Regions from separate parts of the Homo sapiens genome. Here all the other regions are linked to region 2. Evidence: fine-mapped expression QTL. A gene starts in region 2. Each other region holds a variant in brackets. All regions are shown on one strand. Distances are between the middles of the regions.

Region 1 (4,068 bases), 370 kb before region 2:
CATTCTAATCTTCTGTATACAATAAGGCTTTAATGAAATCATTCAACAAAGATGAGTCTTCCATTAAGGAAGAAGCCTGGCTAGACAACTGTTTCGTTTGTTGATATAAGTCTGGTCAATATCATCACTAACTATTAACTCATGGAATCCTACAGCAGCACCATGTCTTAGATATTTGCTGCCCATTATGTAAGCCAGAAATGAAAAAAAAAAAAAGTGTTTCAAACTTAATATGGTGTTTATTGGGTTTGACTGCTTTGAAGATTCCCTAAGACAAGCCAGCTAGTCTGTAATCCTATCTGAACAATGGTATTTTCCTCACTCATTTTTTAACACCAGTGAGGAACAGGAGGCAGCTAATAGCTTTCCAGAAGTAACTGTGTGCTAACTGTAAGATCAGAGCACCTTCTGAACAAAGGCCTTGGAGAGGCTTCAGAAATAAGGCAACCAGGGAGGGGACCAAAAGTCATGCTTTTAACCTCAAAACTAAGGCGGCCTATCCATAACCCAGAGAGGAGACTTAGGGGTCACATATAAGTTTCTATAGTCTCATTATGTACCACATGGGGCTAACCATACAGTCTACCATCTTGATTTTGTCAGCCATTACAATGAAAAAAATATAGTGAAATATACTTTGCTAAAAAAAAATGGCACTTACATCAGCTTTGCAAATAAATATAAGATGTTTGCTAACCCACAAAATATCACCCACTAAGCCCTCCCTCCCACAGGAAAAACCCCCACACTTGGTTCTCCTAGGAATATGCCATTAATTGCCCTCGGCATGTGTGAGTGGCTAGTCACAAGTTAACTTTATAGCAATATTTAATTGAATGAATAGAACAATGTTGTGCTAATGAGGGTCAAATTGCCACCAGATGTTGCCTTTTTTTTTTTTTAAATAAACACAGCTGTGTACATGCGTGCATAGGCAATATAGAACTAATAGAGAGAAAAGAGCTTCCAAGAAAACATTTGCAAGCAATAAAGGAGAGAAAAATCTAGGGATTAATGAATTTCCATCCCACCTTTCATTTTTATTTCAAACACATGAAAGTTCACTAAACTTGGTGCTGTGAATATGCTGTACATTAGATATTATTTCCAAACAACCATTTATTAAATGGGGAACTTTCTCCCAGTGGGGGCAGAAGAGTGAGTCAGTCTGATGAGAAGCCATCGACAACCTGACTGTTCTGTGATGTCGTCCTTGCGGAGGTCCAGGAACCAGCTCGGAGTCTTCCAATCTCTAGCTGCACAAGTCCCTGTGCACACTTGGAAAGGCAAGAAAAGAACAGAAATGAAAAGTAGTAGCATTTATATTCTGAAATATCTTAACAGAGCCTCTCCCTGCAGCCACAAATTATAAAAGGGTAATGAAAGCAACAGGCATAGCCCTAGAGAGAGGAGGATGAATTCTGTGGCTCCTGGAGGGCCCATCTCATCAAATGCATTTAAAGAACAGTGATGGATACTTAGAATTCTCACAAGTATGAAAAACTTGCTTGTGAAATCCCAAAGCAGGTTCCCTTTCATTCTGTTAGTCAATATAACAGAACTTTCTTTTAAAGCTATTCTGGCTCATTTAAAATAATCAGAGATTAAATTTCTAGTAAAAACTAGAGTTAGTATAAAATCCAACCCATTTTATAATCAAGCTAGACTGGAACAGTTCCCACTGGACTTCAGTTGTGCCAGCTGGGTAAAAAGCAGCCTAGCAACTCACCTTGAGGATGGTGGCCACTGTCTCCTGTGAGGCATTTCTCATGTCCTCCCCATTCACAGATAAGATCTGATCTCCCTGAATCAATCTCCCATCCAGGTCTGCGGCTCCGCCTTTCACGATGTCAGAAATAAACACTCCG[C/T]TTCCATTTCTGTTAATACCATACAGCAGTGCAGTATTGGCACAACCTAATATTTCCATGCATAATACGTGTGTGTGTGACAGGATGCACACACATATATGCTCCTTTCTTCTTCCAGTTTTGTTTTCTTTTTGTTTCTTTCATACCTTGGTAATTTGCCTTTATCAGCACTTGGAGCTTCCTCATTTTTTAAATAGCTACATACTATTCTATGATGTTTCATAATTTCACTTACCAGTAGCTTACTGATGGACATACAGGTTATTTCCATTCTTTAACTATTGCAATGAGCAATGAATACTTGTAAGTATATCTTTAAGATAAAGTCCTGGTGATGGAATTGTTAGTCAAAGAAAATAGTGACTTTTGAGAACTATACATCTCATCCTTTACAATGCAAGTTTTTGTGCTAAGGAATGTAAATGTTCCTTACAAACTCAACCTGAAATACTGACATTCACTAAAAGCAAAAAACATTGCTGTAAATAAAACCGCACCAGGTATACGCATGTGTCAAAACAAGAAAGCAAACTTCAACACTGGCTCTGTCAGTTGCTCTGCACCCAGATGTGCACTGATTTTTGTTTAGAAATGTAAGAGACTCAGCTTTTTTTGTTTGGTAATGCATTTTCAGAGTGATGGTTCTATGGTGCTGAAGTAAAAAAAAATGAAATTATGACAGCACAATACTTGGCCCAAAATCAGTACTCAAAAATTGTAGCTAATATTTTTATTTTAATAACAGCTTGGCCTGCTGGACAGACACTAGGCTAGTCACCAGAGGTCTGTGAGGGCATATAACATAACATGCATAAAAGCAACTTGATTTCTTCCTTAACAAGATGGTTGATACACTTTAAGGCCATATTAGGATATTACCTGGAAATCCTATAGCCCTGTTGGGATAAATACATACTAGATACCTAAAAGCCAGTAAACCATGGAAGCTAGGCTTTGTTTCAAGCTATTACTTACCTTTCCAATTCACTGCAAGAGAAACTTAGTAATATTATCCTGGAACAAACGACTGTTAAGCAGTATAGACTTCATTTTTCTTTATTTAAAAAATTTTTTTAGAGACAAGTCTTGCTATGTTGCCAGACTGATATTGAACTCCTCACCTCAAGCGATCCTCCCAACTCAGCTTCCCAAAGTGTTGGGATTATAGACGTGAGCCACTATGCCTGGCCTAGGCAACATATACCTCTTTTTATTTATTTATTTATTTTTGAGATGGAGTTTCGCTCTTGTTGCACAGGCTGGAATGCAATGGCGTGATCTCAGCTCACTGCAACCTCCACCTCCCAAGTTCAAGCAATTCTCCTGCCTCAGTCTCCCAAGTAGCTGGGATTACAGGCGTCTGCCACTATGCCTGGCTAATTTTTTGTATTTTTTAGTAGAGATGGGGTTTCACCATATTGGTCAGGCTGGTCTTGAACTCCTGACCTCAGGTGATCCACCCACCTCGGCCTCCCAAAGTGCTGGGACTACAGGCATGAGCCACTGCATCTGGCAGCAACATATATTTCAAAAGAGTAGCCTGGCCACTAGGATCTACCTACCTACATTTTTGGTGCAAACTATTACTTTGGGGACATCTTTCTTTTTTCCTTTTCTTTTTTTTTTTTTTAATTTACAGATGGGGTCTTGTTATGTTTCCCAAGAGGCTCAAGTGCAGTGGCTATTCACAGGCATGATCATAGCACACTATAGCCTTGAACTCCTGGCCTCAAGTGATCTTCCCACATAGCTGAGACAACAGGTACATGCCACTGTGCCCAGCAGGACATTTTTCTTAATAGAAAACTACTATCGTGAAGAATTATGTTTATCTCTTAACTATGTCTACTCAACTAGTTTCAACATAGTATGAAATTAACAGTATCACGAAAAGCAATGTTCCATGTTAATTTCCATGTCGAAGCAATGTTCTTGACCCAACATTGGATAAATCTCATTCTTGATGCTAGCTATTTCTTGGGTATGGTTGCTTTAATCAACCTCTGCAAAACTCCGATCTTAGTAATTCCAAGTGAAAGAACCTTGCTAGTTGTTCTTACTCTGTACAGAAATATATCAGTCTGGATTGATTGGACTTGGAGTTCTATCTTGATATGACAATTTTTCTGGTAAGACCTTGCTCAGAAATATGACCCATGTTGTCAAATTTTCATAAATATCTTATTTTTAGAAATCCCAT
Region 2 (4,068 bases):
TAAAAAGCTTTTTCTGTAAAGACAGCCATGTTGCTCAGGCTGGTCTCCAACTCTTGGCCTCAAGCGATCCTCCTGCCTAAGCCTCCTAAGTAGCTGAGATAACAGGCATGAGGCAGGTTGCCAGGCCTGATAAGATGCTCTCCATAACACCTGCCCAGTAATGGCATCTTCAACAATGGCCAACTCTGGCTTTCAGTCTGCAAAACCAATAAACTCTGTTTTCACGCAGCTTATCTGCACTTACTTTGCCAATAAAAGTTTCCTTTTACCCTCCCCTCTTCCATGCATATATGGCTTGCCAGGCCTGTGCACCTCGGGCTATAACGCTCATTTCTCATTCCCAAATAAATTCAACACATTTGGAGTGTTTTGTTGTTGTTGTTATTGTTAACATCTTAAAGGCCATTAGGGGCCCTAAAAACATCAAAGCTCACTTTAGCTAAAAGGCTCAATCTCACCTAACATTTTCTAATGCTGCAAACAGATTTAAGTTTTTAACCGCTGCCCCTGCCTCCACTCCTTTCAAATAGATGTGTGCAAATTAATTTGCAGCCAATAGGAATTTAGCCCAGAATGTGGTAGTATCATCCTCAGTGGAACCGACATTGTCCTTCTGGGTTTCCAAAGGCTTCTGCCTTCCTTTAAGAAACACTTGTCGCGCACCTACCAATAGCCAGACCCTAAATGCAGTCGAAAAATAAGGCCCTGAAAGGGGCACCCTCTAAATGGCAGAGGCAAGCCAGTAAACAACCAACTGGAATTCAAAGTGACAAGAGCCACTTGGAAATATGACAAAGTGCCAAGTGAAGGGGTGTTCACTTAATTCGGCCTGCGTGCGGGACGGCTGGGGCGCTTTGGAGAGTGGGAGTGATCTGAAAATGCTTTCCTGAGCTTGATTTAAAAGCAGGAGTCCAGGAATTTCCCCTAAGGCTGGAAGCACTTTCCGACAGAACCTCCCCATCTACGCAGCAAGGCTGGCAGAGCCCAGGGCCTGACCGCTGGCTTGGGAACCTCCGCTACGGGATGACCAGGCGCCGCGACGCGGCCGGGCCCAAGTCGCCCCCTCAGCCCGGCTCTGAGCACCCCCTCCTCTTTGTCCCCTCACCCCGTTCCCTCCTTCCACGGCCACCGATGGAGGGAAAGACTCCGCCCAGCTCTGGGAGCGAAACAGGGGCACCGATCTGGGCGCAAAATAGGATCCGTGCCACCCCCGAATACCAGTGGGCCGAGATTCGAGGCCCGAAAGGCCTGGGGAGGCGGGGCGGCGCCCCTCCCTGCCCGCGGCCTCGGCGAGCCCTGCGCGGCGGGGCGGGGACCACCGTGGGGTCACCCGGGCCCGACGCAGGAGGACGGCGCCCCCGCCCCGCCTCCCGGGTCAGCGCGGACGCACGCCGCGGGCGCCCCATCCTCGCCGCGGCCCCTCTGAGCGCCCGGCGGCGCCCTCCACCTCCGGCTCCCACCCACTCCAGGCGGGCGGGCGGGGAGAGCGCGGGGGCAGGGCAGGCAGGCCCGGGAAGCCCCGAGGGAGCTGCCCCCGGCCGGCCTCCAGGCGCGGGGACACCCAGGGGCGAGCGCGCACTGCACAGCCGGGACCTCACGCTTTACCTGGTGCGCTGGAGGAGCAGGTGGGAGCCCGGGTCGGGCGGGCTCGGTGTCGGCCCTGCCTCACCTGGGCGGAAGTGAGAGGCCCAGGGTGACCGCGCCTCACCTGGCAGGCCCTCCCCTCGCCCCGACTCTCCCCGCCCGGGGCGGGGCACCGGGGTGGCGCAGGGGGCGGGGGAGGGAGCCCGGGGCCGCGGGAGGCGGGCTCCAAGGAGGGAGGACGGTTGCCCTGGCTGTTTACGTGCAGGTGAATTCCTACCGGGCGCGGGATGGCCAAGGGCCTGGGAAAAGTGGGCTGTGGGGGCGGGGTGGCGGATCAGACCGCGCGTGGTGGGGACAGCCGCCACTGACGGGGAGGGAGATCCGGACAGACCGGTGTGGTTGGAGGCCTGCGTGTAGAGCGAGACCCAAGATCAAGGAAATTGAGGAGGATATCGATGAAAGCGTTGGGTCAATCCGCTTAACACTTTGTCTTTTTGCCCCTTTCCTTTCCTGTTCTCTCATCCCTCCTTTGTTTTCTCTATTCGCTGACGCAAAATAAAATATTCTAAAACGTGTAAATGTGGGAGTCATTATTTTCTTCTCATTTAGTGGAAGAAAGAAATCCAGCAGTATTTGCCTGCTGTATGCTAGGTGCTAGCTTATGCAATGTCTCATTTACTCTCTGAAGAAACTAATGAGGAAACCGTGCACCCTGTAGGTTGACTGGCCCAAAGTTTGGAACACAGGCAAGGCATTTTGACTCTAACTACAGTGATGATTTCACTATACGTTAATTTTCTTTTATTTGTGATGTCACACCTTCGAGAAAAATATGTCCCGATAGCCTTCTTCCACTCCCTTTAATAACTTTAGGCTTTTGATGATAGGGGTTTTACTTTGCCTGATACAGTCCACACATTAACGATAAAGAGAATCAATCTTCAGGTATCTTATTCATAGAGTACATACAGTAATTGTTAAACACTGTGATTGATTGTGGGAAGATGTGTAAAATGGTATCCCTGTCCCCAGGAAGATGAGGAATAGATACAAAACAACTACAACATAAAGACTTTCAGGCGGGGCGCGGTGGCTCACGCTTGTAATCCCAGTACTTTGGAAGGCCGAGGCGGGTGGATCACCCGAGGTCAGGAGTTCGAGACCAGCCTGACCAATATGATGAAACCCCGTCTCTACTACAAATACAAAAATTAGCCGGGTGTGGTGGATGCGTAGTCCCCTCTACGCAGGAGGCTGAGGCAGGAGAATCACTTGAACCCAGGAGGCAGAGGTTGCAGTGAGCCAAGATCCTGCCACTGCACTCCAGCCTGGGTGACAGAGAGAGACCCCGCCTCAAAAACAACAACAACAACAACAACAACAATTAGCCCGGAGTGGTGCCGTGAGCTTGTAGTCCCAGCTACTCTGTGGGGCTGAAGTCGGAGGATCACTTGAGCCCAGGGGTTCAAGACCAGCCTGGGCGACAGAGCAAGACTCCATCTCAAATAAATAAATAAATAAATAAAATTAAGATCATGCACTTGGTGCTTTGTAGTTTGCTTCCTTGTTTTAAAAGAAATGTAACACTTGTTAGTCATGGTAAGAAGACACACAATATCAGCATGGTTTCTGCTTTTTAGGAACTAACAAACTACTGAGGGAAATAACAGGCAAATTGCCAGATGGAAGCCAGACCTCAGAAAATGAAGAGATCTATTATGTTTTTTGAAAGCATGGGTTAGAACTTAAACAGGTCTTAACCAGAGTCTGAGATTAATTTAGGTAAAATGGAGAAGGAAAGGCTTTCCAAGTCGGGGGCAAAATAAAGTTGGAGATTGAGTGGGAAAAGGGAGAGGATTGAAAAACTACCTATCAGGTACTATACTTATTGCCTGGGTGATGAAATAATCTGTATATCAAACCCCATGGCCTACAATTTGTCTATGTAACAAACCTGGTTTTTTTGTTGTTGTTGTTGTTTTGAGACAGAGTCTCGCTCTGTTGCCCAGGCTGGAGTGCAGTGGCACAGTCAGCTCACTGCAACCTCTGCCTCCCTGTTCAAGCCATTCTCCTGCCTCAGCCTCCTGAGTAGCTGGGATTACAGGTGCCAGCCACCACACCCGGCTAATTTTTTGTATTTTTAGTAGACATGGGGTTTCACCACGTTGGCCAGGCTGGTCTCAAACTCCTGACCTCGTGATCCACCCGCCTCAGCCTCCAAAAGTGCTGGGATTACAGGCGTGAGCCACTGCACCTGGCCTACAAACCTGTGCATGTAGCTCTGAACCTATAATAAAAATTAAATAGGAAAAAAAAGAAAGGTGGAGACCAATTATCTCAAAGAATCACCTTGCAAACATTGGTCTCTTCTTTTTAAATTTATTTTTATTTATTTATTTTTTAAATTGAAATTGAATCTCACTATGTTACCTAGGCTGGCCTCAAACTCCTGGACTCAAGCAATCCTTCCACCTTAATATCCTT
Region 3 (4,068 bases), 300 kb before region 2:
AGACGGGTGGATCACGAGGTCAGGAGTTCAAGTGGGCAAGATGGTGAAACCCTGTCTCTACTAAAAATACAAAAAAATTAGCCAGGCGTGGTGGTGGGTGCTTGTAATCCCAGCTACTCAGGAGGCTGAGGCAAGAGAATGGCTTGAACCCAGGAGGCAGAGGTTGCGGTGAGCCGATATCACGCCACTGCACTCCAGCCTGGGCAACAGAGAGAGACTCCGTCTCAAAAAAAGAGAAATAGCTAATGTTTGTAGCTGCAGCACATTAGACTGTAGAACGAACCCACAGGTTCTGTTAGTAACCCTGCAAATGGCCACCACCTCTGGTCCCAGAAGAGAGAGATTCTCACATGAAGAGGCGTCAGCTGAAAACATTCATCTAATTATGCACATGTCCCCTTAGGGAAAGGAAAGCGTTCCTTAAATAAATTAGAGGAACCTTTACTTTTACATTTCTCAGCAATATGCATATTGAAGATAAGATATTCTTGGTCTTTATAAAATGAATACTAAAGTAGAGGAGAAAACAGCTGTTTAAGGGATGCGTCAACCTGTAAAATTTAAGAAAACATGGGCAAAGCAGTCTAGGTTCCAAATAGTCTATGCATCCTTTAAGATGTGAATAGAAACAAAAAATACTCTCTATGTCTACACCACATCCCACACTTAGAAACTAGAGGATCAAATGAAGCAGAATTTATCATTCAAAGCCAGGTCTCAAATGTCACTTGTTCCATTGTATCTTTTCCTTCTCCTTACCTGGGGGACATCTCTCCTTCCTCTAAATTGTAACATTCTACCTGAACCTCCTCTGTCACTTAACATTCATCTCTTTTGTATCCTAATTATGCATGTACAGAACTGATCTCCCTGACGGGACTGAAAGATCCTTGAATCGAGCATCTGGGCCTCATTCATTCCCACTGCCTGATTCATTTTTCACCCTAGGTCTGTTTTACTTCAAATTCCATACTCTTTTTAACTGTACTACGCCTCCCCACTTTTCCTCTTAGTCTGAGATGACTCCGTAGAGGAGGGTTTGAAGTCCAAATCTAGATGGAGTTGGGAGTCAGGCAAAAAGGAAGTTGGAATTGAGGGAGGATAGCAATAAAGCATTTACTTTCTAGGAGAGCTAAAGTCTGTAACAGTTTGATGTTCACATTCATGTTACATTACAAGTAGAGCTAAAGTTGTAATGTTTATGCTAAAATGAGGTACAGAACATAACAATGTGGATCCTTTCCCTCCCTCCCTCCCTCCCTCCCTTCCTTCCTTTCCTTCCTTCCTTCCTTTCTTTTTTCTTCACCATCTCACTCTGTCACCCAAGCTGGAGTGCAGTGGCATGATCACAGCTCACTGAAGCCTCGACCTCTTGGGCCCAGGTGATCCTCCCACCTCAGCCTCCCAAGTAGCTGGGACTACATGCATGCACCACCATGCCTGGCTAATTTTTTGTAATTTTTGTAGAGACAGGGTTTCACCATGCTGCCCTGGCTGGTCTTGAATTCCTGAGCTCAAGCACTCCTTCGGTCCTAGCCTCCCAAAGTGCTGGGATTACAGGCATGAGCCCCTGTGCCTGGCCACAACAATGTGGATTCTGCTCTGAGAACAGAATGGCTCATGAGGTAAGGAGTCTTCAAAATACCCCACTCACCAGGAGCTTGGAAAATAGCCAAGAGTCTGATATGGGAAAGGGAAAACAGGTCAGCAGCGTGATTTCTAAGGCACGAGTGAATTAGAGTGGTTTGAGGACCATCTGGCTGACGGATGGGGGCCAGTTGACACCCAAGATGACTCAGCTAATC[C/T]GGATGGCTGGGTGTTCCTGTCGTCTCTTGCTGATCTTCAAACCACCTGTCCAAAGCTGCCTGCTCAGCCAGGCAGCTTAAGGAGAACAACTTCTCCCTATGAGATCACAGTCAGTGGATTCCACAGTCAATTATGTTTTGTAGATGAACAAACAGAAAAGGCAAGACTTGTAAGGTTTGCAGATCAACCCCTACTGAGGTTAGTCTTTTTCAGACCTTTAGGAAGTTCCAAATTCCCTCCCCTGGGCTCTCCCAAAATCTTCCACATAAGTGATTGCAGAAGTGATAATGCTTATTATTTTAAACTCCTTTTTTTTTATATCCACCATTTGTCTATAATTTTCTTCAAACTGAACAGCGAATCTTGATAGCAAGAATGCTATTTTATTTGAGAGTAGGCATTCAATAAAAGTTAAATTCGTTAAGGATGTTATTGTGGATTGAAAAAACATTTCCTTTTTTTTTTTTTTATTTGAGACGGAGTTTCACGGTTGTTGCCCAGGCTGGAGTGCAATGGCACGATCTCAGCTCACTGCAACCTCCGCCTCCTGGGTTCAAGTGATTCTCCAGCCTCAGCCTCCCGAGTAGCTGAGATTACAGGCGCACGCCACCACACCCAGCTAATTTTTGTATTTTTTTTAGTAGAGACGGGGTTTCGCCATGTTGGCCAGGCTGGTCTTGAACTCCTGACCTCAGGTGATCCGCCAGCCTCGGCCTCCCAGAGTGTCGGGATTACAGGCGTGAGTCACCGTGCCTGGCCCATTCCCATATTTTCTAAATCCAATGTTCTTTTAGAAAACACACAAAATAATTTTAGTCTCATCGCCAACCTAAATTCACAAATATTTCCCTCTGCAAAACCTTGTTTACCACATGTGACAAACTGAATTTCTTTCTTCTAACCCCAAACGTGAGCTTATTTACTAGGCTGCTCAGAATTCTAGAAAGGCAAGGCAAAATTAAAATAAAATGGAAATTATGCTAATGGAACTCCCTGCATGATCAACCTCCCTGATCTTTATGAGGCCTGTTCCATCTCAGTTAGTACTTTAAAAAACACAACTTCTAAGAAAGCAAAAAGGAGGTCCTTGTTTGTATTGAAGATATTCTAAAAGATTTAGGCTGTCCTGTCAATAAATGGAATAAGTATGTCGGAACCCAAGTTATTTGAGCCCTCAGTACCTCTTACTAGACGACAGCAATGGCTTCTTAATTGGGTTTCCCTCTTCAAGATGTCTTTAACATTGCTATTAGACTAATCTTTCTGGAGTACAGCCTTGATCAGATTGTTTCATTGTTCAAAATGCCTTCAACAGCTCCGAAACCAAAGAATGAAATTCAGACCCTCTGGGATTTAAATGTGGAATCTAAAAAGTTGAACTCATAGAAGCAGAGAGTAGTGGGAGGGGCTGGTGGATGGGGTGAAGGTTGAAGACATGTTGGTCAGAGGATGCAAAATTTCAGTTAAAGTAATAAGTTCTAGAGATCTGTTGTACAGCAGGGTGACCACAGTTAATAACAATGTACAACAATGTACTGTATTCTTGAAAATCTCTAAGAAAGTAGATTTCAACTGTTCTCACCACAAAAATAAGTACGGGAAGAAATACATATGTTAATTATCTTGTTTAGCCATTCTACAACATACACATATTTCAAAACATCATGTTGGCCAGGTGCAGTGGCTCACTCCTGTAATTCCAGCACTGTCTCGAGGGGCTGAGGTGGGAGGATCTCTCGAGCCCAGCAGACTGGGCATGGGCAACATAGTGAGATTCTGTCTCTGCAAAAAAATCTTATAGTAGCCAGGTATGGTGGTGCGTGCCTATAGTCCTAGCTGCTCAGGAGGCTGAGGCAGGAATATTATTTGAGCCTGGGAGGTCGAGGATGCAGTGAGCTGAGATCATGCCACTGCACTCCAGCCTGGCAACAGAGCGAGATCCTGTTTCAAAAAATAACTGCCCCCCCCAAACCAAAACCAAACAAAAAAACCCATCATGTTGTATATGATAAATATATACAATTTTTATCAATTTAGTTTTTAAAAGGAAAAAAAATCCTGTTTTGTATGTAACTATTAAAAATGGAAGATGCTGGAGGCTGGGAGTTCTACTAGAGGGCTGTGATAATATAAGTACAATCACAACAAAAATGAGGTCTTATCATGTGCCAGGAATAGTGCTAAGCCTTTTATAAACATTACTTAATACTTCTAACAAGTCCATAGAATTAATTATTATTATCAAACCCATTTTAAATGTGA
Region 4 (4,068 bases), 280 kb before region 2:
GTAAGGATAAAGGGCTCATCTTAATATACAAAGACATAGGTGAAGGAGGAAGCTTTCACTCTCTGAAAATAGAGTGAAAAACTAGAAAGCCAGAAAGTGCCACTAGATGAGAGAAAAGGATGCTAATATAGGATTTCCTTTTTTTTTTTGAGACAGAGACTCGCTTTGTCAACCAGGTGGGAGTGCAGTGGCGTGATCTCGGCTCACTGCAACCTCTGCCTCCTGAGTTCAAGATGCAATTCTCCTGCCTCAGCCTCCTGAGTAGCTGAGTAGCCACCACACCTGGCTAATTTTTGTATTTTTAGTAGAGACAGGGTTTCACCATGTTGGCTTGGCCAGGCTGGTCTCGCACTCCTGACCTCGTGATCTGCCTGCCTTAGCCTCCCAAAGTGAGCCACCATGCCCGGCCTTTTTTTTTTTTTTTTGAGACAATCTCTCTCTGTCGTCCAGGCTGGAGTGCAATGGTGCGATCTCAGCTCACTGCAGCCTCTGCCTCCTGGGTTCAACCAATTCTCTTGCCTCAGCCTCCTGAGTAGCTGGGAGTAGAGTTGTGCGCCATCACACCTGGCTAATTTTTTGTATTTTTTAGTAGAGACAGGGTTTCGCCATGTTGGCCAGGCTCGTCTCAAACTCCTAATCTCAGGTGATCCTCAGGTGATCCTCCCAAAGTGCTGGGATTACAGACGTGAGCCACCGTGCCTGGCCCTAATGTAGGATTTCTTCAGGAGCAAAGTAGAAGTGGGAAGGGATATTTCAATCACGTTAGTGCCCAAGCTGGGAATAAAACTACCTCCTAATCCCAGTGGTCCCTGGGAATGGACAGATCTTACTGCTGGTAACTAACGAGAAAGGGAAGAATAATAATGATTGTCATAATCCTAAAATAGCAGCTAACATTCTTTCACCCCTTACTCTATGCTAGATGTTGTATTGAGCATTTTCAATTTCTGAAATATCACAATGAATGAGGGAGATGCTTTATTATCCCATTTTACAGATGATAACTGAGTCCCAGAAGGAAAAAGAAGCAGAGCTACAGTGAACATAGAGGGTTAGGTACATGACCTAAAAGTAATTCAGATTTACTTGTCATTTCAGTCCAGTAAAGAGAATCAAACAACCTCATTTCTATTGCTAATGTGGCAATGTTGACTACAAACAGTAAGATTCCTAATTCTGATTTACTTGTACCATGAGGGCTCAATCAGCTTGCAGGGAGGTCTGAGTAAATGTGAAGCCCCAAACACACAACACAACTCTAGGCAGCAGTGCTGAACATCTTCTCTACTCTGAGCTTCTCACCAGCACTCTTAAAAGGAAGCTCCTAAGAATGTCCTCAGTTCTGTTTTCCTGTTTGTTCTTTAATGAAGACATTAATGATTCAGCAAATGTACCAAATAGTAGTGACAGGAAGAGAAGTTAGCAGGTTTCATTATATTTATATACAGGAAAAATGGATCCAGAAAGGGAAGAATGTTTTATAACTGAAATATAAATACTAGCCTCAGCTACCAATTCTATCCCATGAAACATAAGCAAATAAGACAATCTCATAATCAAAACAATCAATACTTTTCTTGAAGTGACAGTTACAAAAGGAATATATGTTTTTAGAAGGAACAGTGATTTCGCTAGACAAATCAAAGATGACATAGTCTTACACTAATAACATCTTCAGAAGAGGTCTTTGATTTTGCAAAACCAGATCTAGCAATC[T/C]TACCTGATGAAAACCAGCTTGACCTTTGATGGGGCAGTCTTAATAATGGCAGATGCATTTTGGTGACTTCTTCCATACAGAATCTGATTGTTTATCTGTTTGGGAAAAACCACAATGTACTAAATTATACATGTCTACAAGTATATATGTATATACTTGGAATTAAATGATAAAGTCTACTGAATTTCTTTTCTTTTCTTTTCTTTTTTTTTTTTTTTTTTGAGACAGTCTCACTCTGTCGCCCAGGCTGGAGTGCAATGGTGCAATCTTGGCTCACTGCAACCTCCGCCTTCTCGGTTCAAGTGATTCTCATGCCTGAGCCTCCTGAGTAGCTGGAATTACCAGCATGTGCCACCACGCCTGGCTAATTTTTTTGTATTTTTAGTAGAGAAGAGGTTTCACCATATTGGCTAGGTTGGGGTTGGTCTTAAACTCTTGGCCACAAGTGATCTGCCTGCCTCAGCCTCCCAAAGTGCTGGGACTACAGGTGTGAGCCACCACACCTGGCCCTAAGTCTACTGATTTTTTTTTTTTTTTGAGGCGGAGTCTCGCTTAGTCACCCAGGATGGGGTGCAGTGGCATGATCTCGGCTCACTGCAACCTCTGCCTCCCAGGTTCAAGCAATTCTCCTGCCTCAGCCTCCCGAGTAGCTGGGACGACAGGTGTGCACCACCATGCCTGGCTAATTTTTGTATTTTTAGTAGAGATGGGGTTTCACCATGTTGCCCAGGCTGGGTTAGGACTCCTGACCATGTGATCCTTAGGCCTTGGCCTCCCAAAGTAAGTCTAATGATTGTTAAGTGGGTATATTAGGACTCTCAAATGCTAAAAATCTTAATATTCTTTGTAGTAGAGATTCAAACAGTAATTCTAAACAGCTATCAAAAATCCTTAAATTCAGTTTTGACTACAGTTAATGAAGAACATACAGTCCTTTATCCTTTTGCTAAACTTCAAGAAAGCAGTAGTTAAGCCTGATACAAAAAGTTTAGGACACATATTTCATTTCCTACAGCTTTCCCAGATTCCTTAAAAATGTTGAAAACAGACCAAATTGTGGTATTCACTGGAGCTCTGGAGAGCCCATTAAACATGATTTTGTAAACATGTCAAGGTTATTACATAACATAAATTTGTTACTCTAGGGAAGGTAAATATTATATCCCTGTTTTAAGTCAAATTTTAAACCAACTACACAGAAAGATTTTACTGAACGCCATCAATGAGTCATATGCTCATATCCAAGACATGGTAGAATTTTAAACTTGATTGGATCTACCAAAAGATGACCTAAACAACATTTAAATTCTAAATTTCTTTATTCCTGATTTTCCCACTGATAAACTATGATGATAGCTGGAAACTCTCTTATTTTATTTCACCCAATTGATAACAGCTCATACAGTTTTGACTTTTTCCTTCTATCTCTTTAAAAAGTAGTTAATGATCTATAACTATACTATTCCTATTCAAGTGTGGCATTGACAATTTCTACTATTTAAGAGATAGTATAGTGTACCATATAAGGGACAGTAAAAGGAATTGCAATTAGCATCTAATTTGTTCTGTCTCTGGAATTTTGCATTTTAAGGCACACCTGATGTTCCTTTCAAGACATCTAAAAATGTTATTTTTTTGTCAAAATAGTTATAATGTGACAGCATGTGGAAGTGAACACTTTAAAATATGAAATGAAAATATAGTATTTTCAACTATCTAAAAAGTGGCCCTTCCATCACCTTTCCTAAGTGGTAAAGCTGGGATTCATATCCAAGGCTGATGGAAAGACCAATCTTGAGCTACCTCCTCACTCTGCCTCTTATTCTATCAGCTTTCGTTCTGCACCAAGATCATCAATCTCACCGGGCACAGTGGCTCACACCTGTAATCCCAGCACTTTCGGAAGCCAAGGGAGGCAAATCACTTGAGGTCAGGAGTTCGAGACCAGCCTGGCCAACATGGTGAAACCCTGTCTCTACTAAAAATACAAAAATTCAGCTGGGTGCCTATAGTCAGCACTTTGGGAGGCTGAGGCAGATGGATCACTGGAGGCCAGGAGTTCGAGACCAGCCTGGTCAACATGGCGAAACCCCATCTCTACTAAAAAATACAAAAGTTAGCTGGGCGTGGTGGTGCATGTCTATCGTCCCAGCTACTTGGGAGCTGAGATGGCGCCACTGCATTCCAGTGTGGGTGACAGACTGAGACTCTGTCTCCAAACAAAAACAAAAACAAAAACAAAAAACAAAAATTAGCTGGATGTGGTGGCACACACCTGTAGTCCCACCTACTGGGGAGGCTGAGACAGGAGAATAGCTTGAACCTGGGAGGCAGAGGTTACAGCAAGCCGA
Region 5 (4,068 bases), 170 kb before region 2:
AAACCTTGTCTCTACTAAAAATACAGAAATTAGCTGGGCATGGTGGCACATGCCTGTAATCCCAGCAACTTGGGAGGCTGAGGCAGGAGAATCCCTTGAACCCAGGAGGTGGAGGTTGAAGTGAGCCAAGATCACGCCACTGCACTCTGGCCTGGCGACTGAGCAAGACTCTGTCTCCCAAAAACAAAAAAAAAAAAGAAAGAAAAGAAAATTATAAAAATTAATTAAAAGAAATAAAAGAATTTAACAAATTAAAAAATCATATTAATGGCTTAAAAGTCTCAACATCCAAAAGATATAACTTCTTTCTAAGTTAATCTATAGATTCAACAAAATTCCAACCAAAATCCCAAAAGAAACTTTTGTGGAATTTAATAATCTGATTCTAAATGGATATGGAAAATAAAAATGATATAAATAGTTAAGACATGTCTAAGAAGAAGAAACATATAAAAGAAAGTGCTCTATCAGGAAAAAAGATTGATTACTAGGCTTTAATAATTCCGTCAGTGCAGCATTTGTACTGGGATAGACAAGTTGATCAAATGGAACAAAGAGAAAGCTTAGAAACAGACTCCCCCTTGTAACCTGAGATACAGCAGAGTTGGACTGCAAATCAGTGGGTAAAGGAGGTCTATTTTAAAACAGTGGGACAGTAATTCCCCAAGAGAACAACAAGTTCTCTTGATGAGAAAAAATGAAAATTCATCCCTACTTGACACCACATCTTAAAATAATTTTTAGGTCAACAGATTCTACTTTAATAGAGGTGGGCAAACAGGAATGGAGGATTAATTCTGATTGACAGGAAGGATAGTTTTCTCAGGAGAGATGACCTTTGATGTGGTCCTTAAAGAATGAAAAGGATTCTTATGGGAGAGCAATGTGGGAAATGGACTTCCAGGCGAGAGCAGCAAGATCAAAGTCTCAGTGTGAGAGGCATGTTCTGGGAATGGACAAACAACCAGCCTGTCTGAACAGGAAAGAAATCTATAGACGTTGATGGCTGACTGGCCGTTTATAGTATTTTTGCATCTATGCTGCACCAGGTTTCTGTCCTCCATCCTGGTAAGAACCAGTCATATTTGCAGGGAAAAAAATTATAAATATAGTGCTCCTACAACACTGACACTCATCAAAAAGCCACTTCTATTATAGCCCAGATATGGAAAACAAAAACAAAAACAAAACAAAAACATTTTTTAAATCCTTGAGAGGTTCAAGTTACCTTTTCTTTCTTTTCTTGGGTGTCCTGGTTCTGGTTACCGGTGATTTTGTTGGCCTTGTTATGTACGTTAGGAATGACCTATGGTGACAAAAAAAGGGGTGGGGGGAAGAAAACGTTTAAACGACATAATCATTCCTTTTTTTTCTCTTGACATTCCACAATGGAGAATTTTTTTTCAATCATTACATTTCTGTTTTTTTCTTTTTCTGAGATGGAGATTCGCTCTTGTCACCCAGGCTGGAGTGCAATGGCACAATCTCTGCTCACTGTAACCTCCGCCTCCTGGGTTCAAGCGCTTCTCCAGCCTCAGCCTCCTGAGTAGCTGGGGTAATAGGCGCCTGCCACCACACCCAGCTAATTTTTGTATTTTTAGTAGAGATGGAATTTCACCATGTTGGCCAAGCTG[C/T]TCTCAAATACCTGACCTCAGATGATCCGCCCGCCTCAGCCTCCCAAAGTGCTGGGATTACAGGCGTGAGCCACTGAGCCTGGCCTATCATTACATTCCTTAATGTATTTGTTTAAACAGCTAAAATCTTAACTTTGTAACTTCATCTAAAGAGTAAAAGTATGAGAAGTACAATTCAAAGCAAACAATAAAACTTGGAAAGCCTGAGAAGATACATAACTCTAAAATATTATAAAGTTATATATATGCCATCAGGGCATAAAAATGCAGGTTTCTGTACGTAGATCCAGAAGCTGAAGACGAAAAAGACTAAAAACAAGTTCACATACTGACTGTAGTCCAAACATCACATTTTGCAAGATAGAGTTTTAGGGGTGATCTAATTAATTATCCAAGAACATAGGATAACACATCTGTTTGACAGATTTACCTTATTCATCATTGTACCCCCAGTTCAAGCATGTTATCTCCCACACTGTGTGTACTCAATATTCCACTATCACTATTAGCATAAGGAGGAATTAACAAATCTATTCCCACCACTGAATAAGCTTAATGAGAGTAGAACTCAGTGTTATTTTTCACTATTTCTCTGGTGCTCAGAAATGGCCTAATACATAGCTGTACATAATAAATGTTTATAAATGAACGAACCAGTTTAATTTTATAAAAAGAAGCTCCTCAAAGAGCTAGCACAGATAATCTTGGCATAAAATCTGGTGAGAGACATGAAGATTAAAAGAAAAAAATAGACCAAGTATAGTGGCTCATATCTGCAATCCCAGCACTTTGAGAGGCTAAGGCAGGAGGATCGCTGGAGTCCAGGAGTTTGAGACCAGCCTGGACAACAAAGGGAGACTCCATCTCTACAAAAATTTACAAATTAGCTGGGTGTGTTGGCGTGCGCCTGTAATCCCAGATACTTGTGGGGCTGAGGTCGAGGCTACAGTGAGCCACAATTGCACCACTGAACACCAGCCTGGGTGACAGGGCAAGATCCTGATTCAAAAAATACATAAATAAATTAAAAAGAAAAAGACAAAAAAAAACTCCTTGCTCAGGAAATTAAAAGACTGCCTGCCTGGAGATAATTAAAAACAAAACAAAAAGCCCATTTTCCCCTAAATGCAATTTAAGATTAAATTTTCATTTTTAATATAGAATGTAAATAAAGTTTAGAATGAGAAAGTCTCAGAAACGTGTCATTTACGTAAAAAACAACAGTAACGATACACTAACATATATACAGTGCTATGTGAAGAGGCACTGTGCTACTAGTAACCTAATATTTCTATCTCTGTTTAATACATATAACAACCTAAGACAGATTTCAAAGACTGGTGGGGTTTACAGGCATGTGTTCCTTGTCCTGAAGAATCTTAAACAAAACACTTTGCCTCCCTGACAAGTCAGAAACTATCTGCCCACACTACTACTTTCTCCCATAGAAAAACTAGCTGATGCTAAATAGAAGCTTTGGGATGAGACAGAATGTCAGCTGCCACTCACAATGTTTACGCTGCCTTCCCTCCCCTCCCCTCCTCTCTACCTTCCCCTCCCCTCTTCCCTCCCCTCCCCTCCCCTCCCTCCCTCCCTTCCTTCCCTCCCTCTCTCTCTCTTTCTTATCTTTCTTTCTTTCATTGGTTTGTTCATTCGTTGAGACAGAGTCTCACTCTGTCACCCAGGCTGGAGTGCAGTGGCCACTGCAGTGCAGTCTTGGCTCACTGCAACCTGTGTCTCCCAGGTTCAAGCAATTCTTGTGCCTCATTCCCAAGTAGCTGAGGTTACAAGTGTAAACCACCGCACTCAGCTACTTTTTCTATTTTTAATAGAGACAGGGTTTCACCATGTTGGCCAGGCTGGTCTCCAACTCCAGACCTCAAGTGATCCTCTCACCTCAGCCTCCGAAAGTGCTGGGATTACAGGCGTGAGCCACTGCGCCCAGCCCACTGTTTTTCAAATAGCAGAGAAATGTTCTTCTGTACATATATCTTTAGCAAAATTTAGAAGACAAAATGCTCAATGAGACTCCACCTTTCAGGAAAACAGAAGACTGTATTTCTCGTGAAAGTAAAAATATATTTATAGGTGATTAATATGCAAAATGTTCATGTGTCAAAAAAAGTAGGTACCCTTATAGAACAATGGTATTGGTAAGCACAACTGGAATACAGGAAGAAAGAAAGCAACACGTGATGATAAACATAATGAGCTGAAGATATCCAATTTTTTAATATAAAAATATATATATATTAATATAGAATGAAAATAAAGTTTAGAATAAATGAGAAAGTCTCAGAAATGTGTCATTTATGTAAAAAAACAGCAGTAATGATACATTAACATATATACAGTGCTATGTGAAGAGGCACTGTGCTAGTACCTAATATTTCTATCTCTGTTTAATACATATAACAACCTAAGTCAGATTTCA
Region 6 (4,068 bases), 38 kb before region 2:
GCAGAGTCTCTGATGGGCTTCCATGGCAGACATTTCAGATGTGTGGTCATAATTCACCACTGGAAGACTTAAGTGTGTCTGTCCTATATGACTCCATGGGGAGCGGACTCGTGGAAGCTTGTGCCTGGTTTCCTCCAGTCTCCACCTCATGCACCTTTTCCATGTTGATTTTGCTTTGTATTCTTTCACTGTAATAAATATAGCTGTGGGTGTAACTGTATGCTGAGTCCTATGAAACCTCCTAGCAAGTCATCAAATCTAGTGGTCTTGGGGACTATTTTAGAAACATAGAATTAAGCCAAGAAGTCAATTGCCCAGGGTGAGAGGTGGATCCAGAATTCAAGCCTTCATCTGTCTGATTCTAAAGCTCACACACTATAATCCTATGCTCTTTCCTTTCAGAGGCTAATTTGGATGTAGGTGTGCTGAGAATTTCTCCAAAGGTAGATAATAGGGAGGGTGTATACCACATCTTGTGCCATAGCCTAGGGCCTGAGGGTGCTGCAGCTTAAGTCATTTCATGAGTTATAGAAAGCATAACATTGACTGGTAATAAGCAACAAATGGGGCCAGGCTGAGGAAGGAGATAAGTTGGTTATAGCAAGAAGGCTGAAGAGATTTTATCTGCCATCAGCTGACATGAGAGGAAAGGAGAAGTGAATAGTGCTCTGTCCCCTATGGCTAGGCCTTACCATATGCCCTAGAAGAGATAATAGCTCTCTTGTTCCTAGAGCTGGCTACTCCCTGTTGATGGATGTGAACAATTGTGCACAGGTGTATATCAGGAAAAGGAAAACACTAGGATTAACTTTGGATAAATTCAAACAACAAAGCTCAGACTTCAGAATCAAACAGGTACGGGCTCAATCCTGACTTTGTGGCTCACCTAGCTGCTGTAACCTAGGGCAATTTCTTAATGGTTTCCATATCTATAATTTGGGAATAAAACTTCTAAGAGTATTTTGAAGGTTACATGAGAATAATGTACATTAAGCAGATAACAATGTCTGGCGTAAGTACTTCCTTCTCTTTGAGCACTTATGACCCTATGACAAGCATACCCTCTACCTCCTCTTTGATGATCTGAAATAGTGACGATCCCTTCCAGTAAAGGGCGAAAATCAGACTTGGGCTTTTTCCAACAATGCCTCAATGGGATTAATCTGGGAAACTCTGCACATCTTATTCTTGTGAAAATTCATAAAGCATGTTAGTATTTTAAAAGCTCAGAAAATTCTTACAGTAAAGAAACCTATTGGATTTTGTTTAAATTTACTTGACCCTTTGTTGTTCACAATAACCACTCCACTTTGCATTTTGGAAAAAAAAAAATGCCACTCCAACAAACAAACCTATTAAAATTGCTAAGGCAGAGGCAGGAGGAGGGAGGGAATACAAAGAAAGGCATCCCAAAATTTTCTGCAATATTTTATTATTTCCAGGTTATAAAAATTTTTTTTAAGAATCCTTAAAGAATATTGTGTTGTGCCACAGATGTGTGTGGTTTTTGTTTGTTTGTTTGTTTTGAGAAAGAGTCTTGCTCTGTCGCCCAGGCTGCAGTGCTGTGGCGTGATCTTGGCTCACTGCAACCTCTGCCTCCCAGGTTCAAGCAATTCTCATGCCTCAGCCTCCTGAGTAGCTGGGATTATGGGCATGCACCTCCACACCTGGCTAATTTTTTGTATTTTTAGTAGCGACGGGGTTTCACCATGTTGGCCAGGCTGGTCTCGAACTCCTGACCTCAAGTGATCCACCCAGCTCGGCCTCCCAAAGTGTTGGGATTACAGGCATGAGCCACTGCACCCAGCCACAGATGTGTTTTAAAGGTCTATAAAATGAACATTCTCAAACATTCTGGTCTCAGAACTTGCTACAGTTTGGATGTTTGTCCCCCCCAAACCTCATGTTGAAATCTCATCCCCATTGTTTGAGGTGGGGCCCAGTGGGAGGTGTTTGGGTCATGGGGGTGAATCCCTCATGAATGGCTTGGTGCAGTGAGTTCTTGCTCTGAGTTCTCTGCAGTGCGTTTACTTAGTGCAGTGAGTTCTCACTCTG[ATTGT/T]TAAAAAGAGAGTTGCCCCCCACCCACCACTTCCTCGCTGCCCACGTGATCTCTGCACACACTGGCTCTCCTTCACCTTCCACCATGGAAGCAGCCTGAGGTTTTCCCCAGATGCCCAATTTTCCAGCCAGCAGAGCTGTAAGCTAAATAAACCTATTTTAAATTACCCATCCTCAGATATTTCCTTATAGCAACACTAAATGGATAAAGACAGAACTCCTTTACATTCTTAAAAATTATTAAGGATGGAGGGATAGGAATTACAAAGTAGTACGGGAATCTGCTGGGGGTAATGAATACGCTCATTATCTTGATTGTGGTAATGATGGTATAACAGTTAAATTACATGTGTCATCTGGGCTGTGGTGCTGACTGTTTTGGTCAAACACTAATCTAGATGTTGCTGCAAAGGTATTTTGTAAATGTGATTAGCATATACAAACAGTTGACTTTAAGTAAAGGAAAATTACCCTCAATGATGTAGGTGAGCCTCATCCAATCAGTTGAAGAATTCACAAGCAAAAACTGAGCTTTCCTAGAGAAGAAATTCTGCCTCAAGAATGTAACAGAGCTTCCTCAGACATTCTGCCGGCCTGCCCTATAGATCTCAAACACAAGACTACAACATCAACACTTGTCTGGGTTTCCAGCCTCCTGGCCTTCCCTACGTATTTTGGACTTGCCAGCCCCCACCATGGCATGAGCCAATTTTTTAAAATAATATCTTTTTTAAAGTAATCACACGCATGTCCTATTGGTTCTGTTTCTCTGGAGAAATCTGGTAAAGATGAATCCACAAATGTATACATATGCAAAAATTGGTACTGAGGAATTTTTAAAATATTTAATATTTAGTATGTTAATTTTTATCATTTATGTATATTATGTCATTATATTTTTAAAAGAGCTATATTTTCCAAAACAAAAAATATTCGCCAGGCTTGATGGCTCACACCTGTAATCCTAGCACTTTGGGAGGCCGAGGCAGATGGATCATAAGGTCAGGAGTTCCAGACCAGCCTGGCCAACATAGTGAAACCCCATCTCTATTAAAAATGTAAAAATTAGCCAGGCATGGTGGCACATGCCTGTAGTCCCAGCTACTTGGGAGCCTGAGGTAGGAGAATCGCTTGAACCTGGGAGGCAGAGGTTGTGGTGAGCCAAGACTGCACCACTGCACTCCAGCCTGGGCAACAGAGCAAGACTCCATCTCTCTCTCTATATATATATATATTAGTAAGAGTGGGACTGTTTAATATTTTTACAAATCTCTTTAATATCTGGCTTAAAACAGCTGGACTCATCTGCTTCTGCATTCAGTATGTTACAATATACTGTTTTGGATGATGTATATGAAGAATATCTGGCCTCAATCAGATATATAGTTGGAAAGGGGAGGGGTATTATAATAGTCCTTTCAGCCTATTCTTTGATAACACACCAAAACTTGGCAAGTGGTGGTTTCTTATACAGTTACAATGTAGAATCTGGAACCATATCAACAAACTTTCAGACACTATTTTATTAAAATCCACTGATCTATCTTGATTTTTGAAAGGATCTTTTAGCTACATATTATTTTGTCATATCACATATTGGTCTTCAGAAAATATTGAGGCTGGGTATGGTGGCTCACACCTATAATCCCAGCACTTTGGAAGGCCTAAGCAGGAAGATCGCTTCAGGCCAGGAGTTTGAGACCAGCCTGGGAAACAAAGCGAGACTGTCTCTACAAAAAATAAAAATAAGGCCAGGCGGGTGCAATGGCTCACACCTGTAATTCCAGCACTTTGGGAGGCCAAGGCGGGAGGATCACTTGAGCTCAGGAATTTGAAATCAGCCTGGGCAACATGGTGAAACCCCACCTCTACAAAAAATAGAAAAACTAGCTAGGCATGGTGGCCTGGGTCTGTAGTCTCAGCTCCCCCAGAAGCTGAGGTGGGGGGATCACTTGAGCCCCAGAGGCAGAGGCTGCAGTCAGCCAAGATAGCACCACTGCACTCCAGCCT
Region 7 (4,068 bases), 130 kb before region 2:
CCTGTCTTTATAAATAAATAAATAATAAAAATAAGAAATTTTATCAGTACAAATTTAAATGACTATTTTATAGCCACCTTAGGGATGTACCATAATTTATTTAAGGTAACACTATGTTATTCTTTATTGCTGGAATTTTGGTTGTTCAAAACAAAATGTGAATTTTGTTTTGAAAATGGTCTACTTTTTCTGTAAAGTGGTCAGACTTCAATGATAAGAGAAGGATCATTCATAAGCCGATATACAAAATACTTCCAGCTTTGCAAAGTAGATTATGAATTTGGTAATGCTGGGCAAGGTAGCAGAGCCCCAGCAACAGAAAGTGATTGGCACGCAGGTAGTAAAGAGAATTTACTGACAACAGCACAGGCTTGAAAAGTCAAGTTTTATTAGACAGAAAGAACACTGTAGTGGGGCGCTTCAGCAAGAGAGGACTGAGTGGGCCTCCGAGGATTTTCCTTAGGGGTATTTATAGACCTTAAAGCAGGAGCGTAAGGGTAATTTGGACCCTATTAGTTTTGCAGGTCATGATAGATTGATTACATTTGTAGACATGTTGGTGCCTTGATGTCAGCAAAGGCTGCACAATGAGTTTCGATATGCATGCATTCAGGAGACATATAGAAATTCTAGCTACTTATAAATTTTTGGGAAAGCAGCCTGGTAACCAGATGCTGGCTTTAGATAACAGGGAAGTCTAATTGCTTCTAAATTCCTCAGATAAGGAGTTTTGCCTCTGGATGGCATAGTTGATGACCACCAGGTAATCTTTGCTCTCTTCATTATACATCTAAATTCCTCAGATAAGGAGTTTTGCCTCCAGATGGTCTGCTTCATGGTCACCAGGTGATTTTTGCTCGCCTCGGGTAAGTATGTAACTATATCAGATAACTAATGGAGCCTAAGGAACATAGAATTCAACTCAAATATTAAATAGGGGTAAGAAAGGGGATCTGACTACATAGTTGCCTAGAATAAAATAAGCAAGAACTTCTTACAGAAAACAGTGAGGATTTGGAAGGAACTGAGCAGTTAAAAAGAAGAAGGTTGTAATTTGGGGCCATTTGGACTTCTTAAACAAAGTTAATGGTAATTCTGTTAATAGTAAATGAAGAAGAAGAAAATTGATATCCAAATCTGGGATTTCAATACATTGGGTATGATAGGTGAGATATTTATAAACAGGAATTTCTGGCTGGGAGCAGTGGCTCAAGCCTGTAATCCCAGCACTTTGGGAGGCCGAGGTGGGTGGACCACTTGAGGTCAGGAGTTCAAGACCAGCCTGACCAACATGGAGAAACCCCGTCTCTACTAAAAATACAAAAAAAAAAAAAAAGCCAGACGTGGTGGCTCACGCCTGTAATCCCAGCACTTTGGGAGGCCAGGGTGGGCAGATAGCCTGAGGTCAGGAGTTTGAGACCAGCCTGGCCAATGTGGTGAAACCCCATCTCTACTAAAAAATGCAAAAATTAGCTGGGCGTGGTGGTGGGTGCCTGTAATACCAGCTACTCAGAAGGCTGAGGTAGGAGAATTGCTTGAACCCAGGATACAGAGGCTGCAGTGAGCCGAGATCACACCACTGCACTCCAGCTTGGGTGACAGAGTGAGATTCCATCTCAAAAAAAAAAAAAAAA[A/T]AAAAAATATATATATATATATATACACACACACACACATATTTATATATATGCGTATATATGTATATATACATATATACACATATATATGTATATACATATATATACGCATATATATGTGTATATACACATATATATGTACATATATATGTATATATATACACATATATATATATACACAAAAAATTATCCAGGCATGGTGGCGCATGCCTGTAATCCCACCTACTTGGGAGGCTGAGGCAGGAGAATCGCTTGAACCTGGGTGGCAGAGGTTGCGGTGAGCCAAGATTGCACCATTGCACTTCAGCCTGAGCAACAAGAGTGAAACTCCATCTCAAAAAAAATAAAAAATAAATTAAATAAACAAGAATTTCTTTTTTCTGGTTTTTTTTTTCAAATAGAGAAGTTTTTTTTTCTAAAAAGAGAAGAAAATAAGAACATAGAATTATTCTTAGGTAAATAACCCTCAGGCAAAAAAAAAAAAACAAAAAAAACAAAAACCAAATCTTTAAAAAATGGACAAAGGACTTGAACAGACATTTCTCCAAAGAATACATAAAGATGGCCAAATAAGCACATGAAAGGATGCTCAATATCACTAATTGTTAGGATAATGCAAAACAAAACATAAGATAGCACTTTATACTCCTAAGAAGCAAACAAAAAGCCAACAAACAAGTGTTGGAGAGACTGTGGAGAAATTTGAAACCTTGTGCTTTGCTAATGGAAATATAAACTGGTGCAGCTGCTTGCTGTAGAGAACAGTATAGCTCCCCAAAAATTAAATATAGAATTAGCATATGATCCAGCAATTCCACTGCTGAGTATATACTAAAAAGAACTGAAAGCAGGGATTTCAACAGATATTTATATACCAATGTTCATAACACCATTATTCGCAATGGCCAAAGGTAGAAACAACCTAAATATCCATCAACAGATGAATGGAAAAACAAAATGTGGTATATATGGTGGGGACCTATAGGAACCTCAGAGTTGGTATTGGTAGTGACAGGAGGCAGAGAAATTTAAGGGCAGGTCCCTGACAAAACCCCACCCTCAAGCCTAAAACCATGGCCCAAACTGTTTTCCTGCTCAAATGTTACCTTTTCCTAAACCACCCATGCCCTCGCCCTGCTCTATCCTGTGCCTATAAAGACCCTAGACTCAGCTGGCAGAGAGAAGAAGCAGCTGGATGTCAGGGACTACAGCTGGACATCAGAGAAAAGCAGCTTGACTTTAGAGGGACAGCTTGATGGTGAAACTCTGGAGAATAATCCAGCCAGAGATGGCTGGACTTCTGGGGAAGATTACCTACCCACCTCCCCATCTCCTTTGCAGCTCCCCTTCCCACTGAGAGCCACTTTATTGGCAATAAAATCCCCGCATTTGCCATCCTTCAATTCATTCATGCAGCCTCATTTTTCCTGGATACCAGAAAGCGCTCAGGAGCCACAAGTGTGGATACAAAAGGCTGTCACACTGGCCCTTTGCCCTCGCTGGCAGAGGGCAGCGGCCTCACGTGAAAAGGCAGAGGGCTCACTGAACTGTTAACACTTAAGCCGTCCGCAGATGGCAGAGCTAAAAGATCACCGTAACACGCCCACTGGGGCTTCGGGGATTGCACGCACCTCCCCTAGATGCTGCCGCTGGGCCTGCACAGAATTTGCTCCTGCCAGTACCCAAAAGCGCTTGCCCAGGCTCCTGCACCCGCTCACCTGAGTGCTCCCCTCCCATGAGGGGTGAACGCTGCAGGTCTGAGTGAGTGGAGTTTACTCTTGCCAGTGCCAAAGCAGTCAGATGGTTCCAGCAGGCATGTACTCCAGTTCCCACCTTGTTCACTCACACACTCCCTCCCTCGAGGAGAGCAGTGGGCTGAGTAAACAGGGCACCTCTGTCACAAGTCCCACAAAGGGGTCAGGGGACTATCTGGCTTCAGTATGAAGATTATTATAAACTAAAGATACTTTAGATTTAACAGATGCAGAAAAAAGCCTTCTCAGAGCTTCCCTTATGTGACTAAGCAGCAAGTTCTAGGAAATGAGGCTATCAAACATTCCCTCTTGAGGTGGGTCGACCCCCAGGAAGATTGAGAGTAAGCTACTATAAATGCCCTCTTGAGGAATGGCAATAAGCAAACAGAAGGATCAGTGGCCCTGCATTTAAAAAATTATCAACATAATCAAAAATGTTAACTTTGGGAGGCCGAGGCGGGCGGATCACGAGGTCAGGAGATCGAGACCATCCCGGCTAAAACGGTGAAACCCCGTCTCTACTAAAAATACAAAAAATTAGCCGGGCGTAGTGGCGGGCGCCTGTAGTCCCAGCTACTTGGGAGGCTGAGGCAGGAGAATGGCGTGAACCCGGGAGGCGGAGCTTGCAGTGAGCCGAGATGGCGCCACTGCACTCCAGCCTGGGCGACAGAGCGAGACTC

Alleles and levels. Alleles are on the strand shown, and positions count from the first base shown. SD is a standard deviation of normalised expression in the study named. Not every link is listed here.
In carriers of allele C in region 3, the expression in cerebellum of the gene that starts at base 1,681 in region 2 tends to be higher than with T alone (large effect, 1.5 SD a copy in GTEx).

The links.
Region 1: its variant is fine-mapped to the expression of PATJ in whole blood (TOPMed, PIP above 0.99). The same link has a PIP of 0.9 or more in sun-exposed skin.
Region 3: its variant is fine-mapped to the expression of PATJ in cerebellum (GTEx, PIP above 0.99). The same link has a PIP of 0.9 or more in cerebellar hemisphere.
Region 4: its variant is fine-mapped to the expression of PATJ in whole blood (TOPMed, PIP above 0.99). The same link has a PIP of 0.9 or more in blood mononuclear cells, esophagus mucosa, esophagus muscle, fibroblasts, iPS cells and left ventricle.
Region 5: its variant is fine-mapped to the expression of PATJ in atrial appendage (GTEx, PIP above 0.99).
Region 6: its variant is fine-mapped to the expression of PATJ in whole blood (TOPMed, PIP above 0.99).
Region 7: its variant is fine-mapped to the expression of PATJ in whole blood (INTERVAL, PIP above 0.99).

Annotation. Positions count from the first base shown.
Region 1 is chr1:62,114,341-62,118,408 of GRCh38, reverse strand. PATJ (PATJ crumbs cell polarity complex component) reads right to left here. Exons shown (of 44, transcript NM_001350145.3): 36 at 1,730-1,877; 37 at 1,191-1,277. Among named protein-coding and RNA genes, the nearest start is that of MIR3116-2, 38 kb to the right of the region's middle. The variant C/T (reference allele first, on the strand shown) is at 1,869.
Region 2 is chr1:61,740,093-61,744,160 of GRCh38, reverse strand. PATJ (PATJ crumbs cell polarity complex component) reads right to left here and starts at 1,681. Exons shown (of 44, transcript NM_001350145.3): 1 at 1,606-1,681. PATJ-DT (PATJ divergent transcript) reads left to right here and starts at 1,377. Exons shown (of 1, transcript NR_185910.1): 1 at 1,377-2,163. RefSeq lists a silencer at 1,220-1,929.
Region 3 is chr1:62,043,433-62,047,500 of GRCh38, reverse strand. All of the region lies in intron 30 of PATJ (PATJ crumbs cell polarity complex component), which reads right to left. Among named protein-coding and RNA genes, the nearest start is that of MIR3116-1, 33 kb to the left of the region's middle. RefSeq lists an enhancer at 1,639-2,168. The variant C/T (reference allele first, on the strand shown) is at 1,806.
Region 4 is chr1:62,015,600-62,019,667 of GRCh38, reverse strand. PATJ (PATJ crumbs cell polarity complex component) reads right to left here. Exons shown (of 44, transcript NM_001350145.3): 29 at 1,721-1,812. All of the region lies in intron 1 of LOC107984965 (a long non-coding RNA gene), which reads left to right. Among named protein-coding and RNA genes, the nearest start is that of MIR3116-1, 61 kb to the left of the region's middle. The variant T/C (reference allele first, on the strand shown) is at 1,717.
Region 5 is chr1:61,911,825-61,915,892 of GRCh38, reverse strand. PATJ (PATJ crumbs cell polarity complex component) reads right to left here. Exons shown (of 44, transcript NM_001350145.3): 26 at 1,229-1,306. Among named protein-coding and RNA genes, the nearest start is that of MIR12132, 68 kb to the right of the region's middle. The variant C/T (reference allele first, on the strand shown) is at 1,635.
Region 6 is chr1:61,777,923-61,781,990 of GRCh38, reverse strand. All of the region lies in intron 7 of PATJ (PATJ crumbs cell polarity complex component), which reads right to left. Among named protein-coding and RNA genes, the nearest start is that of PATJ-DT, 37 kb to the right of the region's middle. The variant ATTGT/T (reference allele first, on the strand shown) is at 2,056.
Region 7 is chr1:61,869,131-61,873,198 of GRCh38, reverse strand. The region is part of intron 20 of PATJ (PATJ crumbs cell polarity complex component); the gene reads right to left. Among named protein-coding and RNA genes, the nearest start is that of MIR12132, 25 kb to the right of the region's middle. The variant A/T (reference allele first, on the strand shown) is at 1,635.